Linked DNA regions of Homo sapiens: region 2 is linked to region 1. The links come from fine-mapping of genetic effects on gene expression. A gene starts in region 1. The other region holds a variant in brackets. All regions are shown on one strand. Distances are between the middles of the regions. Region 1 holds the start of LPIN1 (lipin 1). Region 2 has its middle 37 kb from the start of LPIN1.

Evidence for each region. PIP is the estimated chance that this variant, and not a neighbour inherited with it, causes the effect. A credible set is the group of variants that fine-mapping cannot tell apart.
Region 2: its variant is the best candidate, but not a certain one, in a credible set for the expression of LPIN1 in whole blood (INTERVAL, PIP 0.70).

Annotation. Positions count from the first base shown.
Region 1 is chr2:11,743,589-11,748,962 of GRCh38, reverse strand. It overlaps LPIN1 (lipin 1), which reads right to left and starts at 2,331. Exons shown (of 21, transcript NM_001349206.2): 1 at 2,292-2,331. It overlaps LOC124907735 (a long non-coding RNA gene), which reads left to right and starts at 3,504. Exons shown (of 2, transcript XR_007086220.1): 1 at 3,504-5,135. RefSeq lists enhancers at 408-1,079, 3,591-4,164 and a silencer at 2,083-2,652.
Region 2 is chr2:11,707,345-11,712,718 of GRCh38, reverse strand. It overlaps a transcript of LPIN1 not described here. Among named protein-coding and RNA genes, the nearest start is that of LPIN1, 37 kb to the left of the region's middle. The variant C/G (reference allele first, on the strand shown) is at 2,708.

The DNA.
Region 1 (5,374 bases):
TCCCACGCCCGGGCTACCAGTGAGGAAGTGCAAGTGCAAACAGGTCGAACCACCAGCCTCGGTGTCCTGGCGGGACCTAACACCTGGATGTCTCTCAAAATGCTCCAAAAGCTGCCGACATCCGTGCAACAGCCCCCTCCCACCCTAAGGAAAAAGCTGCCTGTACCCCTCGACTACCCCCATTGGCAGGCTTGCCCAAATCAATTAACCTCATTTAGGTACCTTTTAGGCCTTGAACCCAGTACACAGATGGTCCGGAAAAGCCAACCGGAAGAGAGGTGGCAGGCAGGGGGAGGGGGTGTCCCACAGGGATGATTTACAGAGCAGAGGCCGGCGTCAGCCAGGACTGTCCCAACCCCACAAAGAGCCCCTCCTCGCTGGCACCCTGTGGCACTTTAAAATCATAACAACCACAATGATTCGTGGACCCCATATTATGTTCCAGGGGCTCTTTTTTATCTCAATTAATTTTTGCAACAATCCTGTGAATGGGTATGATTATCCCTTCATTTTACAGATGGGAAAACTGAGGCTCAGAGGATTGAAGTCTTCTGCCCAAGTTCTACATCTGTGAGTGGTCAGAACAACAACTGCAAAGCCCAGTGCTCTGTGCCGGCCTCGGCGCATCTCAGACCACGGTGGCCTCAGGACCTTCTTCTGAAATATCTTTTCATCTCCTGACCCTCCCCTGCCGTCTGTTCTGGGCCCTTTGTGCAGCTGACCACGCAAAGAGCAGGAGAGCAGGACCCACAGACTTCCTTCTGGCTGGGCCAGGCCAATTGTCCCCACCTAATCCAGGGCAGGCTCCTTCTCAGTCACTTCCAAGGTCCCCCCTACAACCAGGAATCCCTGCGGTCTCTCACCTGAACCCTCGCGTTCTCTCCCACACCACAAGACTCAGCAGGTCCGCCCCTTGTCCCCCTGTGCTTTTCTAAAAGAAAGGAACTGCTGATAAGCGAGACCTGGGTGGGTGAAAGAACTCGCTCAGGGTCCCACAGAGCTCAGGCAGAGCCCAGACCTCCCGACCCGAGTCCAGGGCTATATCCAGGCCTGGCTCCACAGGACCACAGGGCCCCACATGCAAATAGGAATAATAAGCGCCAAAACACACAACCCATGCACAAAAACACTCAATAACAAATGCTGGCAAACGTGAAGTGCTATCAAAGTATATAATCATAAATCCAACTGTTACACCTTTCAACAAGAATCTGGGAGCAAGAAAAGTGTTCATGTGTGGATGTGCTTATTTCTCAAATACTATACATTCCTCAACTGCTTACTTTCATTAATAAGACCCAAATTACGGAACAAAGGATAAACAGTCAATCTCACAATCACTACCCCTAGACCACCATACCACAACACCCCCAATTAAAAAAACGGCTACAAGCTTTGATTTCCCAAAACACTTCTATCCTGTGGGAAACTGCCGGGTTCTAAAACATCTCCAAATTAATACTGCCAGTTGTCTTAGTTGGTTTCCTGCTTGCTGATCAAAAACAGGGTTGACATCTGCTTTCTCCAGCAACTACTGACCACACAAATTACCTACTCTAGCTCCACAGCACTTAAGTTACTCCCAAAACGTTACTTCTCATCCTGCATTTTCCTGGCCTTGCCCATAATAAAATTACGTGCAGGAGCAGCTGACGGAGCTCACTAGGCCTAGCACCTCCTAGGCTGCAAGAAAGGTGCAGAGGCCTCGCAGGGGAGAGCTGTAATATGAGAACCGGGATTCCAACCTGGGCTCAGCCTGCCCTGCCGCCCGGCAACTGTATGACCTTGGGCACAGAGGTCAACCTCCCTGAGCCTCAGTTTCCTCAACTGCAGCGCTGGAATCCTAACTCCGGGGGAAAGAAAGGCTCTCATCCCAGTCCCCGGCGCAAAGCTGGGGATGATCGCGCAGAGCCAGGACGCACCCGCGCTGGCCGGCTGGAGCTAGTCCCCGCGGTTCTGGGACTGCGCGGCAGCCCCCAGTGGCCCCTACGCCGCTCGAGATCAGCCAAGCCGGGCCCACACCGGGCCTCGCGGCGCGTCAGGAAAGCCAGGCCCGAGGGATGCTCGCGAGGCCCTCCCGGCCTCCGGGGCCTGTTTCCCCGCCTCCCTCCCCCGAACCACTTCCCGTAGAGGGCCCCGGGGACGTAGCCCGGCCGTCGGTCCTCGGGCCCCGGGGCCGAGCCCCCGCCTCGCCACGCGTCCTCAGCGCCCCGGCGCCGCGCCCCGCCCCGCCTAACCCGAGGCTGCGGCCCCTGCTCCACAGCGGGAGGCTGGAGGCGGCGGCTACTCACCGAGCGGCGCCGCGCGTGGCCGCCTTTGTATTGCAAACACCCAGCCCGCCGCCGGCTGTCAGCGCAGCTCGCCTTCGGGGGCGGGGCAGGGGCGGGGGCAGAGGGCAGGGGCGGGGCAAGCGGGGCGGTGCGAGGGGGACTCGGGACGCGCTGGTGGCCCGGCTGCTTTCAGGGCCTGCTGGCCGGCCCTGCCCGCTCACCCCTGGCCGCCTATCTTAGCGTTCCTGGGGGTGGGGCCCCTTAGGCCGCCTTTCTGATTTTCCTTTCCAGAGCCAAACTCGTGTGTTTCTTCAACACTCTGACTTGACCTATGCCGATGACTGGGGGAGTGAGGACGGAGGGGTGCAGAGAAAAGGCAGCCAGGTAAAAGTCCAGGTAAACCACCCAGGGCCTGGCCGCGATCACGTCGGTCCTATGGGTCCCGCTTATCACCAGTGGCGGGATCTGAGCCCGTCCTTGACTTTACTGACCCTCGCCCTTCGTTTCTTCCACCTTAAAGGCGCAATCGCGTTGACCTATCGCCATCTCTTCTTAGCTTCTCCACGCCGGGCCACCCCTGTCCTTCATCCTGATGGTGACAGCCTCCACTCCCGCCTCTGCCAAGCGGTGGTCCAGGTGCGGAACGGTGGCTCTGAACAGGAGGGACAGGCAGCTCCCTGCGCCTCTCCAGCCGGGAGGCAGGCAGCGGATAAACAATGAGCCACATAACGTCTGGTGGTGAAATGATTTCCATCAATGGGAGGGTGTCATATTTGAACTGAAACTCTAAATGACAAGAAACACCTATGACTACAAAGATGGGGAGGAGGCAGGGCTTTCTGGAGAGCAGAAATGGCAGGTGCAAAGGTCCTGGGGCCGGTGCTGTGGGCTGGAGGGAAGGCAGGGGCCAAATATTCAGGTCTTGTAGGCCAAGGCAAGGAGTTTAGGTATTATTTAAATGTTATTCCAAACCAATTCTTTTTGAGACAGGGTCCCACTCTGTCACCCAAGCTACAGTGCAGTGGCACAATCTCGGTTCACTGCAGCCTTCACCTTCTGGCCTCAGGCAATCCTCCTGCCTCAGCCTCTCAAGTAGCTGGGACCACAGGTGCATGCCACCACGCCCAGCTAATTTTTCAAACTATTTGTAGAGACCAGGTCTCCCTATGTTGCCCAGGCTGGTCTCAAACTGCTGGGCTCAAGCAGTCTTCCCACCTTGGCTTCCCAAAGTGCTGAGATTACAGGTGTGAACCACCACGCCTGGTCCAAAAAGAATTTTAAACCTGGGAATTATATGATCTAATTTACTTCTTTAAAAAGTCACCCCTCCACTCCATGGAAAATGGACTGCAGGAGTAGAAGCCAGCAGACAGGTGGCACTGCAGGAAACCGGGGGACATGATGGTGGCTCAGATTACAGGGGCTACTCAGCAAGAAGCGGAAGGACTTCAGAGAGATTTGGAGGCAAAACCCACAGGCTTACTGATGAATGGAACCGGTGGAGGTGTGTGATGCGATACTCAAAGGCAAGTCTCAGTGTGGAGATGGAACCGCTGCTCTGCTGAGATGCAGAGGGCCAGGGAGGAGGCCAGCTTAGAAACAGCATCGAATGCGGCAGCTTAGTGAATTGGATAAGCCAGCAAGCTTGAGATAGATGTTTGGGGACAGCTGCTTGGAGAGCTTTGTCCAGGGGCGCGGCTCCCGTCCATCTGGTCAAGTGTGGACACGCTCCCGCTGGGCTTGGGGCAGCTCCTATCTAGGCAGCCTGTCCCATGCTGACATTGCAGACGTGGGAGCTACACAAAGAGAATCTTGCAGTTTGTAGGTGAGCTACCTCCACAGGGGTTTTCTCAGAGACCAGAGTTTCAAGTGCATCACGGCTGCCCAAAACTGCTGAGGTTGCAAGGCCCCAGAAGGAAGCCCTCCTGCACCCTCCCCTCCCACCTCCAGGGAGGAGCTGGCCTGGGAAGAAGTCTACTCTATGTGGAAAGGCTTTCCAGGAAGCCAGTCCAACTTCAGGCCACTTAAGTTTATTTTTTGTGTAAAATAAGTCCATTATTCAAATGTGGAGATGGGAGGTCTGAAAATATAGGACAATTCAACTCAAAGCCCTCATTCTGAAAATGATGAGCTGGGGGGCCCAGCACGGCTAGGGTCAGCTCTGATGAGCAGGGTCTGGCTGGATTCAGAGCAAATTAGGTCCCGCTGCTGCCCAGCCTACCACCTCGGGGAAGGCCAAGGGTTGGGGGGAGCCTTTTGTATAAACAAGCAATGAGAAGAAAACACTCACTAGATCACAGTGCACTCCCAGGCGATAAACGAAACCGGACTTTCCAAAGCCCTGGCGCTTTTGATCAGGCACTGGCTGGAGTCCCCCTGGGAGGGCCCTTGGCTGTGCTATCAGCAACCAGGCCTGACTGAGCAGTGACTCAGCCAGGAGAGCTGAGGCGATCCCCCTGGCCAATCCCAGGACCTAGCTGCACTCGGAAGAGGAGAAGGAACTCCAGGGATGAGTAATCTTGCTCTAGCTGACTGGAGGAGGAAGGAGGGGCTGAGTAATGCCTTAGCAAAGCCAGCACAAGCATCCTGATTCTAGAGGCTCAGTTTCACAATCCAGGAAATGGGCTGCAGGTGCACATGACACAGATCTGCTTTGAGGATGAAAAAGGCATCATGGGAAGCTGCTGTCACAGTTGTGGGGTTGGAAGATTTTTCAATTCTAAAACCCCATAAGTTGAGGAGTGGCCATTCCCAGAAGGATCTGTTCACTGCTGAGCCCAGCTGGTGACAGTAGCTGTTGTATCCCGAGAACTCTGAAGTTGTCCAGATCAACCACCTACACAGGCCCAGAATACCTGGGGCAAGGTAGGCGGGAAGAATGAGCATCCCTCTTCACGGGTGCCCTGCGAGCTACTGTAGGAAGGAGAAACACTGGCTGATCCCCCAGGACTCTGAGCATGGTTAGCTCTGTAACTGCCCGGGCAGAAAGGATCCCAAAGAGAGGACAATGAATTCTTCCCCTAGAGGTGCAGACTTTTATCCCTGGCACCAGTGCCTGGGGCTCCGGGGAAGGGAGGGCATCTCCTCGGGGTCTAAGGCCACTC
Region 2 (5,374 bases), 36 kb after region 1:
AATAAACAGCCCCAGAAGCCCCTAAACCTCTTCCCCTGTCCTGTTCCTCCTTGGCCCTGCACCCCACCTCATATTCATCTGACCCACTTAGCTTTTCCAGCACATATTTGTTGACTGACTGTTAGTTAATGGTGTTGCTTTACATCATGACATAGAATAGCTCTAGGGGTCATGTACTTCGCTAGGTACTGGGAACACAGCAACAAATGAGATGCAAATCTTGTCCGTAAGTCACTCATAAGCTAGTGGAGGGCAGGAAGACAAGTAACAAAGATCTCTGTGGCCAGGGCTACCATCAAGATATGCCCAGGGTCCAGAGAGAGCACAGAGGAGGCAGCCAAGCATCTGCCTGTGGGGAATGTAGGGAAGGTTCGTGCCTTCTGCAGGAGGGGACAGTTGAACTGCCTCTGCAGGGTGAGTGGGAACTCTGGGAGAGGAGAGGACAAGAAAGGCCGCTCCAGGCAGAGCAGAGAGCATATTCAAAATAACAAAGTCATCGCACATATGTTGGGAACAGCACGGTGCCCCTCATGATTCCAGAGTAGTTGAGCACATGCAGTGGGCATAAGGGGATGCCGGGGGGATCAGGGGGCAAGGAGGCAGGGGTGAGTGAGGCCGGCATGGCGAAGGCCTCGCGTGCTCCCAGGAGGACCTCTGGCCTTGTGCTCTAAGCCGGCCAGTTTCATTTTTTTAAGAATGCCCTCCTCAAACAACAACTCTTGCTGGAGCACATTATGTAATTAGAAAAAAGGGAAATGGCTATGGTCAAATGGGGAAGGGGACTGGAGTCTTGGCTACAGAAAACCTGAGGCTCTCAGAGCAGTGTGAGAGCAGTCACTGTGCACCACTGGGGATTACAGAGGAGGAGAGGGATGATCAAATCTGTGTCTTACAAGGACCACACTGACCTCCGCATGGAGGATGGATTCGAGGCAGAGAAGTGAATTTGAAGGTTATTCTAGCAAAGGATCGCTGGGATATGGACCAAGGTGATGACAGTGGGACAAAGAGGAAGATGAGCTCTGAACACAACCACATGATGGAATCACCAGGAAATGATATGCAACTTGGATTGGGGGGTTGAAGTACAGGGAATTTTCAAGGATGCCTGAAGTTTCTAGTCTGGGTGACTAGGTAGATGATTATATCATTCACTAAATTAGGAAAGCAAGAGGGATGAATTTAGGGAGGAATATTCTAGTCTCTTGGAACCACACCCAAAATAAAAAGGATAGATTTTCCTTTAAGACAGAACCAGGGAAAGAAGGCAGATGTGTGTTATAGGATTGTATCCAATCTGGATCCTTGCTGGGGTAGCAGGGGTAAGGCCATTGATTTCTTCATCTATACGTTGCTTAATATGGCAGCTAATGAAGTCCTCATTTCAACTGAGCAATGCATTTGAAACACTTCTTGGAATCCAGTTGCTGCTTCTATTTCAGCTCCTGTGGAATATTTCAGCATGCTGCAAAAAGTCATGCAACTTGGGTACAGATATTCTGGACCATCCAACCCAAATTCTTCAGGGGCCACCAACACAGTCACACGGGCACCAGAATTCTCTGTGTACAATAGTTGGATTGATTTTGCACTCACGAGGTAGGCTAGGAAGGCTGCCAGCAGTTTAAATTCACAGTGTTTGGATTTGGCCCTGATTCAAAATGAAGTTTTAAATCAAATACAAGATATATTCTTGGACTGCCAGAGGAGCAATATCTCTGACCCCCAAGAGTCTGGTTTGAATTCAGAGATTAAATATAAACACAAGAACACCAAAAATGGTGACCCAGTATATTTCAACAATAATTTCTTTCACAGCTAAGTAGAAAATAGGCTCATTCTGCCCACAACTATTTGTTGTAATTCAAAATTCCAACATAAAGTGTGAAGCTCAGCCATTTGGATTCTGGCATCAAGCAGTTGGCAGTCACGGTGGAAGCCAAAAATGAACCTGGCTTTGAATTCCAGTTCTTCTACTAGGAGCTGTGTGGCCTTTGGCAAGAAATTACCTTTCTAAGCCTCAATATTCTCATTTCTAAAGAAAGGCTAACAATAAAATACTTACCTCATAGAACTGATGTGAGAATCAAAAGACAGAATACTGTGAAAACAGTAACGTACCATACAGATGTCAGTGGCTACTCCTGGATGAAGGTCATGAAGTGGAAGATTCAAGGTCAGAAGTAGGTGAGCATCTTCAGAGCAGCTGGTTTGCTTCTACCTTGCTTGAACCTTGAGCTGTATGACTGTTCAGGTCCTTGTTCAGTGCATTGGCTGCCAGAGCCACATTCCTGTTCTCGGTGTGAGTCAGACTCCATGAAACACATGCTTGTGTTAACCTCCTTCTCAACTCTATTGTTTGTCTTGATTTCTTTCTTCCTTTTCTTTCTCATTTAACATAGACTTATGTGACGCTATGGATTAAATATTTGTGTCCCCACCCACACCCCTGCCACCATAAATGCATATATTGAAGTTGTAATCCCTAAGGTGATGGTATTTGGAGGTGTGGTCTTGCAGAAGGTGGGGGCTGATTAGGTGATGAAGATGGAGCCTTCAGAAATTGGATTACTACCCTTATAAGGGTAGGAGAAAGATAATCTCACTCTGCTATGTAAGTTCTGCTATGAGAGTCAGATGGAAAATGTACTTGAAAGTGACCAGCTCACGGCAGATACTCAATGAAGCTGAAATTGAATTCCCATCA[C/G]AGCCTCATTAAGATTAAGACCCAGGTCACAGTTCCTTGTAATCTTCATGTAGCTGGGCTCACTGCTACCGTTCTTGCCATGATTTGCTGGAAGTCACATATCTGGAGCCTACGTCCAAATTCACATTCAGGTCTGTGGGACTCCAAAGCTCTTGCTGCTGTTTCATTGATGGTGCAACATTTAAACAGCAGAAATCTCACAAACACAGAAGGAAAAGAGAGAATTCAGAGAGTAATGTTTCCAGATTATCAGGCTCAAAGTCGTGGGCTGCTCCCAGTTTACAAATGGGTTGTCCAACGTTCATTTGTAGATTTTTGTAAAAGCAGGGTAACATTTTCATATAGAAACGGTACTACCAAAGTCAGCTTTTCCAGGACAAGAGAGGCAGAGAAAACTATAGCATTACTGAAGAAACAATGGCAGCATATAACTCGGGACCTAAAAGCATTATGGTTGGTTTATACAGTCTGCTTTCATGGGAAAACCCATTCACAGTCCAATGGAGGATTCCAGGAATGTGTGGGAACTGTCCAAAATGTGAGAGGAGAACCCTGGCCTGGGGATCAGGCAATCCAGGCTTTAGCGCTGGTGTCGCTAACTTGTTGCAAGGCATCGACAAGGTACCGCCCTTCTCTGGGTCTCAGTTTTTCCATCTAACGGAGGCTCGAGTTACACTCAGTGGTTTCTAAGGGTTTTCATCTCCAAAATTCTGCATCTACATGCATACACCCTCCTACACCATGATTCCAACAATGATACCCCCTTTCTTTGGTAGCCTGGTACCCTCTGTTGAGATAAAGGAAGAGGATAAAGGAAGGTTTGCTCTGAGTAGGGGGGAGATGGGGTGAAAGGGATGATGTTTTATGTAAGAGGACTCCTCCTGGGACAGTTCTGGCAAATCTGATGAGATAACCACTTGTGGTCCCCAGCATGGGTTTTGGAGTCAAACTGTGTAGAATGATCTAGGGTAGAATGCTGGCTTCACCACTTACCATCTGTGTGGTCTTGAGCAATTCATTTAATATTCCTGAGCCTCCATTTCCCCTCTATAAAAGGGGAACAATAATAACAATAATAATAGTAGTAGCTTTGTCATAGGGCCCTTGTGAGGATTAAAGAAGATACTTAATGTCAAGTGCTCAATATATATTCGTTATCATCATCATTGTCATCATCATCACCAACATCATCATCATCACCTTCCCTTCCTCCCATTGAGAGGTGGATAAACTGGGTTCTAACTCTAACCCTGGCTTGCTGGGTGACTTTGGCAAGTTTTTCCCCCTCTTTGGGTCAGCTTTCTTACGTATCAAATGCCTGGATTATACCAAAGCAAGGGTACCTAACTGGCCAAGTGCAACACAGCTGGTCTCCATCTCCTGTGCCTCCTGCTCCATTGAGCACATCACACCACATCATTCCCCACTGAAAACCTTTCATGGCTCCCCATTGCCCAGGAGTTAAGGCCCAGGTCTGGCATGCATGGCCCTGCATGATCCACTCCTGCCTGCCCCCTTGCCTCAGCTCCTCTCCCATGCCTCACTCTCCACTCCCGGGACATGTACAGGGTTCCCATCTCAGTGACTAGGCTCCCCTGCTTCCTCCCAGTCGAAGGTTGACCCTCCACCCAAATCTGTCCTTGGAGTCATTTCCATGACTCAAAACCCAGCTCTCCATGGGGCCTTCTCAGAGTCCCCCCCTTGGCAAATAATCACCCTCCTCTGTGCTGACTCAGCATTCCAAAGAGAAGGCCACAGTGCAGTAGGCAAAAAGTGAAATTGATGAGAGTCAAGCTGCTGGATTCCAGCTGTCGGGGGGCCAACAGTGAAGGGTAATGCCCATTCCCTGGGTGGCTGAAGGCAGATCACTGCTCCTCTTAGGGCCTAGTTTCCTTCTCTGTCCTGTTAGTTAGGAGAGATGACCTCCAAGGGTCTAGGTGAAGGTTGCTGCCCCACTGCCTGACACAGCTGGTCTCGGATGCGGATCTGATGTGAAACTGTGATCATCACTCAGGATCTTTCTCAGTGAAGCCCAGTTCAGTTCACTTCCCCAGGATTTTCTCACATGAAACTCCTGAAGTCCAGCCAGGCTTCTCTAAGGGGCCTACCCAGTCATAATTAGCGGAGACCACTCACTCATCATTGAAACACATCAGAAGAGTCATTTGAAGGAAGTAATCATGCCTGGCTCAATGGTAAGGTCCATCCCAGCAGGCAGGTGAGCACCTGTGGTGCTCACAGAAGCAGCAGCGCTTGGTTGGGACAGGCCCCAGCCACTCCCTTTCTCCCCTCCCAAGCCACATCCAGTCACAAGCAAATCCTGCAGCTCCACCTCCAGTGGGGGACCCCGAGCACTTCTCCCCGTGCGTGCACCACCACCCAGTCCCAGCCACGCTGCTCTCTCCCGCAGCTCCAGCAATGGCTCCACAGCCAGTCTGTTTCTGCTCCTCATCAGCTCTGCTCCTCACAGCAGCCACAGGAACCTTCTGGAATGTTAGATCACACCACTCCTCAGCTCAAAACTTCCCGTGCTCCCCGGTCTGCTCAGTAAATTCCAGGGCCCTACAGTGGCCTCAGGGGGTCTGGCCACGGTTCCGGACTCACCTCCTGCCACCTCTTCATCATCCATGGTGGCTTCTTCCACCTCAGAGACTGTGCATGAGCTGT